Homo sapiens: one gene and its partner. The protein of the gene in region 2 purifies or fractionates together with the protein of the main gene of each other region. This does not show direct contact. Each region holds a gene or a part of one and is shown on either strand. Other genes may lie near its edges.

Evidence for each region.
Region 1: the proteins of NIBAN2 (region 2) and TSN fractionate together in Homo sapiens (co-fractionation; one large-scale study listed by BioGRID). This does not show direct contact.

What each region holds. Positions count from the first base shown.
Region 1 is NC_000002.12:121,757,791-121,762,150, reverse strand, and holds part of TSN (translin), read right to left. Parts: intron 3,442-4,360; coding exon 3,345-3,441; intron 743-3,344; coding exon 627-742; intron 1-626. UniProt on the Homo sapiens protein: DNA-binding protein that specifically recognizes consensus sequences at the breakpoint junctions in chromosomal translocations, mostly involving immunoglobulin (Ig)/T-cell receptor gene segments.
Region 2 is NC_000009.12:127,507,459-127,510,073, forward strand, and holds part of NIBAN2 (protein Niban 2), read right to left. Parts: intron 1,674-2,615; coding exon 1,518-1,673; intron 1,081-1,517; coding exon 964-1,080; intron 743-963; coding exon 635-742; intron 521-634; coding exon 409-520; intron 1-408. UniProt on the Homo sapiens protein: May play a role in apoptosis suppression. May promote melanoma cell invasion in vitro.

The sequences.
Region 1 (4,360 bases), on a different chromosome or scaffold from region 2:
TGTGGTGGTGCATGCCTGTAATTCCAGCTACTCAGGAGGCTGAGGTAGGAGAAATGCTTGAACCCAGGAGGTGGAGGTTGTGGTGAGCTGAGATTGCGTCATTGCACTACAGCCTGGGCAACAAGAGCAAAACTCCATTTCGGAAAAAAAAAAAAAATACAAAAAATTAGCTGGGCATAGTGGCAGGCACCTGTAATCCCAGCTACTCGGGAGGCTGAGGCAGGAGAATCACTTGAACCTGGGAGGTGGAGGTTGCAGTGAGCGGAGATTGCACCACTGCACTCCAGCCTGGGCGACAGAGACTCTGTCTCAAAAAAAAAAAAATATTTACATAGCACTTATACTGTATTAGATATTTTAAGAAATCTAGAGATGATTTAAAGTATGTGGGAGAATGTGTATAGGTTATATGCAAATACTACACCAGTTATATAAGGGACTTGAACATCCTCAGATTTGGGTATTGGAAGAGCTCTGGAAGCATCATCCTCAGATACCAAGCTACAACTATAAGTGGTTTTTAGTTAATTCTTGTTTGTTTTAATAAACAAAGTACAACCACCCTTTCCACCAAAAAGTAAGCAACCATGCCTGATTCTGCAGATCCCACTAATAAAGACACTTACTGCCAAGAATTTCTGTAACTGCTTCTCGAGTCACTAGTGTTTCTGTTTCCAAATACACAACAAATGCTGCCAAGAAGACCAAGCGCTGCAACACAAACCTCCAGTGCTCATGAAATCTGCATGAAAATAAGCACATTTAGCCTCCAAGGTTAGGGACCTTCAGAAAGATGGGTTTAATACAGCCATGTTCAAACGGTTTAGAAATGCGATCATTTTTCAAATAAAATCTTACACAAACCCCCAATATATAAAGAGAAATATGACATTTAGCATTAATTTTACAAGTTCGAATTTATAACAATTAAGTTTAATCAGTGACAAATATGGTCTAATTTTGATGAGTATGAAAATTTACGCCGGGTGCGATGGCTCACGCCTGTAATCCCAGCACTTTGAGAAGCAGAGGCAGGTTGATCAATCTGAGGTAAGGAGTTCAAGACCAGCCTGGCCAACATGGCAAAACCCCCTCTCTACTAAAAATACAAAAATTAGCCAGGCGTGGTGGCAGGCGCCCATAGTCCCAGCTACTCGGGAGGCTGAGGCAGGAGAACTGCTTGAACCTGGGAGGCAGAGGTTGCAGTGCGCAAGATCACACCACTGCACTCCACCCTGAACGACAGAGCGACACTCCGTCTCAAAAAAAAAAAAAAAAAGACAGAAAAAAGAAAACTGAAGATTACAGATGACAAGAGCAATTGTGCCTTCTAAATTTAATCAGTAAGAACAGTGATACTGCTCTGAAAAAAATAAAAATTTGTAACTGATGATTGAAGACAACTGCAGTTATGTATCATCCTCAACGTATTCCTCCATTTTGATTTGAGTGCAGAATACCAAGAAAATTCTGATTCACAAAATTACCATTTGCAATCACTAAACAAATGCACTTAAAATAGAATACTGAGCTAGAAGCCTGAAAAAAGGAAATTTTACAACCTGTGGATATTTATGCAATGCCTCCTGATTCTCAAATGTGGCAATACATTCAAAAAAAAGGTCTCAACATAATGCAGGTCACACAAACCCTTCTGAAGGCCAAATCCAGCCAGAGGGCAGCCTGTGTGTGACCTCCAGAGAAGATGGTCTCTAAAGACCCCACCTGTTCTACTGTCCTACCTCTCTCTGTGCTTCAGCTATTACAACAGCAGTCCCTGACCTTTTCAACACCAGGGACTGGTTTCATGGAAGACAATTTTTCCACAGAAGGGGGGCGGATGGTTTCAGGATGAAACTGTTCCACTTCAGATCATCAGGTATTAGATTCTCATAAGGAGCATGCAACCTAGATCCCTCGCATGCACAGTCCACAATAGGGTTCGCACTACTATGAGAATCGAATGCTGCCACCAATCTGACAGGAGGTGGAGCTCAGGCAGTACTGCAAGTGATGGGAAGCGGCTGTAAATACAGATGAAGCTTCACTCGCTCACCTACCGCTCACCTCCTTCTGTGCATCCCAGTTCCTAACAGGCCACAGACCAGTACCAGTCCATGGCCTGGGGGTTGGGAACCCCTGCCTTACAGCAAGGATCAGCAAATGTTTTCTGTAAAGGGCCAAGTAGTAAATATTTTAGGCTTTGTGGGACGCTTTCACTGTTACATATTCTTATCTGGGATTTTCTTTTTTTTAACAACTCTTGAAAAAACAAAAGCAATTCTTAGCTCCCAGAGGCAGCAGCCACTAGTGGTTTGTCAACCTCTCCCTTAAAAGAATATTCTCATAAGGTTATACTACCCACCCCCTGAAAATACTCATCCTATTTACTGCTGATATATACGTCTTAAAAGAACATCTTTTTCAGTAAGAAAATTAAAATAAGTAGAAACTTTTGATTCAGGTGCAGTTTTTCCCAGTTTAACACCTATGAAACCAGGAGACATTTCACAATCCATGTTTCACAAGTTGTTTTTTTTTTTTAGATGGAGTCTCACTCTGTTGCCCAGGCTGGAGTGCAATGGCACAATCTTGGCTCACTGCAACCTCCGCCTGCCTGGTTCAAGCGATTCTCCTGCCTCAGCCTCTGAAGTGGCTGGGGTTACAGGGATAAGCCACCACACCTGGCTAATTTTCGTATTTTTAGTAGAGACGGGGTTTCGCCATGCTAGCCAGGCTGTCTCAAACTCCTGACCTCAGGTGATCTGCCCACCTAGGCCTCCCAAAGTGCTAGGATTACAGGTGTGAGCCACCACGCCTGGCCCATGTTTCACATTTATGACTGGCAAAATTTTCCTTCCCTACTGGTACATAAAATAATGGTGTATCTTAAAATCAACAGTGTTGATTTTAATAAGAAAACATGGCATAAAATATTAGCTAATTACATCACTTGGCAGTGAAATTCAAGCTTCAAAGTAAAACTCGACTCCATATATATACTGCCACCTAATCTCATTATTTCACTAACTATAGTTCATCCAATTTCACAAGAAACTTGAATATAGCAAAAAGATATTCTCACTTTTGACCCTCATACCACATTTTCTTTTTAATTGCTTTTTCACTGCAAAAGTAATACATGTTCCTTAAGATTTAGACAGTAAAAAGAAGAAAAAAATAAAATCACCAATTTTTGTCATGACCATTATTAGTTCGGTTTTTTCTCTTTTTGTTACTTCTACACAGGATGTTTGCCTAGTTGTAAGCAATCATTTGGTACACATAATTTTTCTCCTTTTTTTTACTTAACATTATAAAATAATGCTATTTTTCTTACAAACCTGTAATACTGTTCAGCAGGAAATTTGGTCTTCAAAGATGTTAGATGTGTTTTTACTGTACCAAAATGTTCTCGAGCTTTCAAACACCTCTTTGGAACTAGTCACAAAAGATAACCAAATGAAAAACTTAACCAAATTTCAAATACAGTTCTTGCTTAATAATCTAAGTAATCTATCTGGAAATTAATCAACAAAAAAACCTCACAACTAACGTACACATCTGTGCTTTTCAACCTGGCTTTCAAAATATCATCCCCAGTTTCCCTACTAATTAGCTATACTGAAAAATAAACAACTTGCTAAAAGGGAATATATTAGGAGACACACTGGTAATTGGTTTGGTTGTCATAAATAACGTCATCCTTAAGGAGATGCACACCAGCTGCTATTCCTGTTCACTCCTCAGAGGATGCCTAAAATTGGATTGCTTCTTCCTCCCATATTTGGCAGAAAAAAGCCTTTACCAAGTATTCACAATCAGGATGACCAACTCCGTATCATTAAGAAAAATCACTTGCCTCTGGCACGTGTAAATGCATTATTATATCATTCTTGTATCTGAAAATATACTTCAGCTCCTTTAGCTGTGCTGGCAATACCTTACAATGAAGGTTCCATGTCTAAACTTGACATATTTTATTTTCATTCAAGAGGCTGATTATAAACACATTAATTTGAGAACATTTTATACTGTTAATCTCATATTAAAAGGTATTCAATCACTGAAAGGCTGGATTCAAATACACACAGGTGCATATACACACATACACACATACACACACACACACACAAAGGGCCAAATAAAAGTCACTAGATAACACAAAAGAGTTACAAACCCTTGGGCCAGGTGCAGTGGCTCACGCCTGTAATCCCAGCACTTTGAGAGGCCCAGCCAGGCGGATCATCTGAGGTCAGGAGTGCAAGACCAGCCTGGCCAACAAAGTGAAACCCCATCTCTAATAAAAATACCAAAAAAAAAAAAAGTAGCTGGGCGTGATGGCGGGCACCTGTAACAC
Region 2 (2,615 bases):
ACACAGCACTGATCCCACAGCCGCCCCTGTGCTGGACTCTGCTCAAAGAAGACCCGTCTCATCCCGCCTTGGGGGTCTGTGGTTGGGATGTGACTCATTCCAGGCCTCGTTGCTGAAAGCAGCAAGGCCGTGATGCTATCTCCAGGCCCAGGCTGCTGACCACATGTCATCTAATCACTCCTCTGACCCTCCCAGCAAAGCCAAGGACGCGAGAAGAAACTAAAGCACAGAGACGCAAGGCTAAGGCTGCTCCGGAGGCCACACAGCGAAGAGTGGGCTTCACCCAGACCCCAGGTGCAAGTCTGGGCTTTTCTTTGAGCCTTAGCTGACCCCCTCAGCTGCCACCACTTCTCAGCTGCGCCCCCAGCATCCTCCTGGCAACAGTCCCCACCCCGGGACGGCACCCACCCTGCAGGATGTCCTTCATGACGGTCTGCAGCACCACCTCCTCGTACGTGTTTTCCACCAGGATGAACCTGGCAAAGTCCTCGAAGATCAGCTCCTGGAACCGGGGCAGCTCCTGCCCGGGTGGGGCGGCAGAGATGAGAGGTCAGGGCCAAGGGTAGAGGGAGGCCTGTGGGCTCCATCCCCCAACTTAGGGCCCAAACGGCTGGAGCAGGTGGGGGCTGCTCACCGACTTGCAGGTAGGGGCCAGCTTCTTGAGCAGGAACGGGATGCTGATCTGCAGCAGCGCCTCCCGGAAGAACCTCTTCCGCACAGAGCTGCTGTCGTAGTCGTATTTCTGCAGGGAACAAGGGGGTCGGGGGTCTGCAGGTCAGTGGGCTCCATTGGCCCTGAGGGTAGGACGAGGCCAGTGGTCTGACCCAAGCCTCCGAGTCCTCATCCGCACAAGAGGACCATGGCGCCTCCTTGCAGGGACAGCAATCCTGGTGGTGGCCGGGGATGAGGCTCGGGGCTCGGCCTCGCCTAGGACGGTCCGGGGCAGGGCGTGGGGCCGCTCACCTTCAGCACCCGCTCCAGGACCCGCTGGATGGACTTGCACAGCTCCTCCTTGGTGGGCCCCTTCCCCAGCTCCTGGTGCAGGAGGGTCTCGAACGTATACACGGCATTGTCCATTTGCTGCAGGGCATACCGCGGACATGTGAAGCCCCCAGGGTGACCACAGCCCCTTCCTGGGTGCCGCTGAGGGGTCCTCATCCTCAACCAGCCCCCCACCCCGAGGCCTGCCAGGGAGGAATGGCAAGCGGTCTATGCCCACTCACAGCTCTGCACGCTGGAGCAAGTCCCTGCCTCAAGGCAACAGGAAATATGGGAAGGGGCCTGGGGGCGCAAGGAGAGCTTCCTGGAGGAAGGGGTCTCTAAGCTGAGACCTGGGAAGTGAGTCAGAATTAGCCAGGTGGGCAGAGGCACAGATGTTCCAAGCAGAGGAGGAGAGAGCGTGCCAGGCAAGCGTGGCTATGGCATGACGGGACGGAGCAGAAGGGACCCCCTGGGCGAGGGGGCCTGTGGAAGGCAGTGGACAGGGTGTGGGGTGGGGGTCGTAGCCTCGGGTCTACCTCCCGCATGTGGATCTGGGCTCGCTGCTTGAACACGGACGTGCTGGACACATCAAATCGCTGCTGCAGCCCGTCCAGTCGCAGCGACTCCATCTTCTCATAGCAGCTCTGCATCTTCAGGGGGTGGTACGCCAGCCGGGACAGCTTCTCCATGTACTGCAGGGGCCGGGGCCGCGGGGGCTGAGCAGGGCCGCCCTGTGGCCAGGCAGCACCCCCCACACACTTTGCCTGGGTCCTCGAAGTCCAGGCCCTGGGGCTGGCGCCTGCTACCAGGGATGGCCACCTGGTGCTCATGGCCACAAAGGTAAACCCAGGAGGGCCCAGGACAGAAGCATGAGGCTCTGAAGGCATGGAGGGCGCAGTCCAGTGGCACAGCGCTGTGGAGAGGCAGCCTCGGTGCCGGCAGAAGGCACTCATCCCTTCTGAGGTGCTGGGTGACCTTGGGCAAGTCATTCACCCTCTCTGAGCCTCAGTTTCCTCAGCTTCAAAATTGGGAGAGAGCTTTCCTGCTCTCCAAGGTCCTCTCCAGGTCTCAGATTCTGGGATTATTATGGTCTGTGGACTCCCCATTTCAGAGTATAAAGGAGGAAACTAAGATACAGGATAAATTCAATCTGACAACTATGCGGGCTCCGGGCAGCCAGCCCAAGATGGAGACTGTGGAAGGACGTTCACCCCGAGAGCCAGATAACTGAGGTCAAGTAAGGGCAACGGCTGTCTCCATTTGGAGGGCGCGTGACTTGTGAATTCTTCCTTATCAATCTCATTACTCCACCTGAAGCCCGCCCTTCCCTCTCCCCTCCTCTCCTTCCCTCCTTCCCTCCTCTCCTTCCCTCCTTCCCTCCTCTCCTTCCCTCCTTCCCTCTCCCCTCCTCTCCTTCCCTCCTTCCCTCTCTTCTGTTAAATTCTTTTCTATTTTAGCACCACTCTTGGTTTCTAAAGGCTGGTGGCCGGGAGCTAATGTTCCCTCTTTCCTCAAACTGCAGGCCCCACGAGGACTCCAACAGCCCTGGCCTCACAGCCTCTGCCCCTAGTCCCCAGCAGCCCCTCCCCGTCTACAGGGACGGCCTTGGAGGGGAACGGCTGCCCGGAGTCACG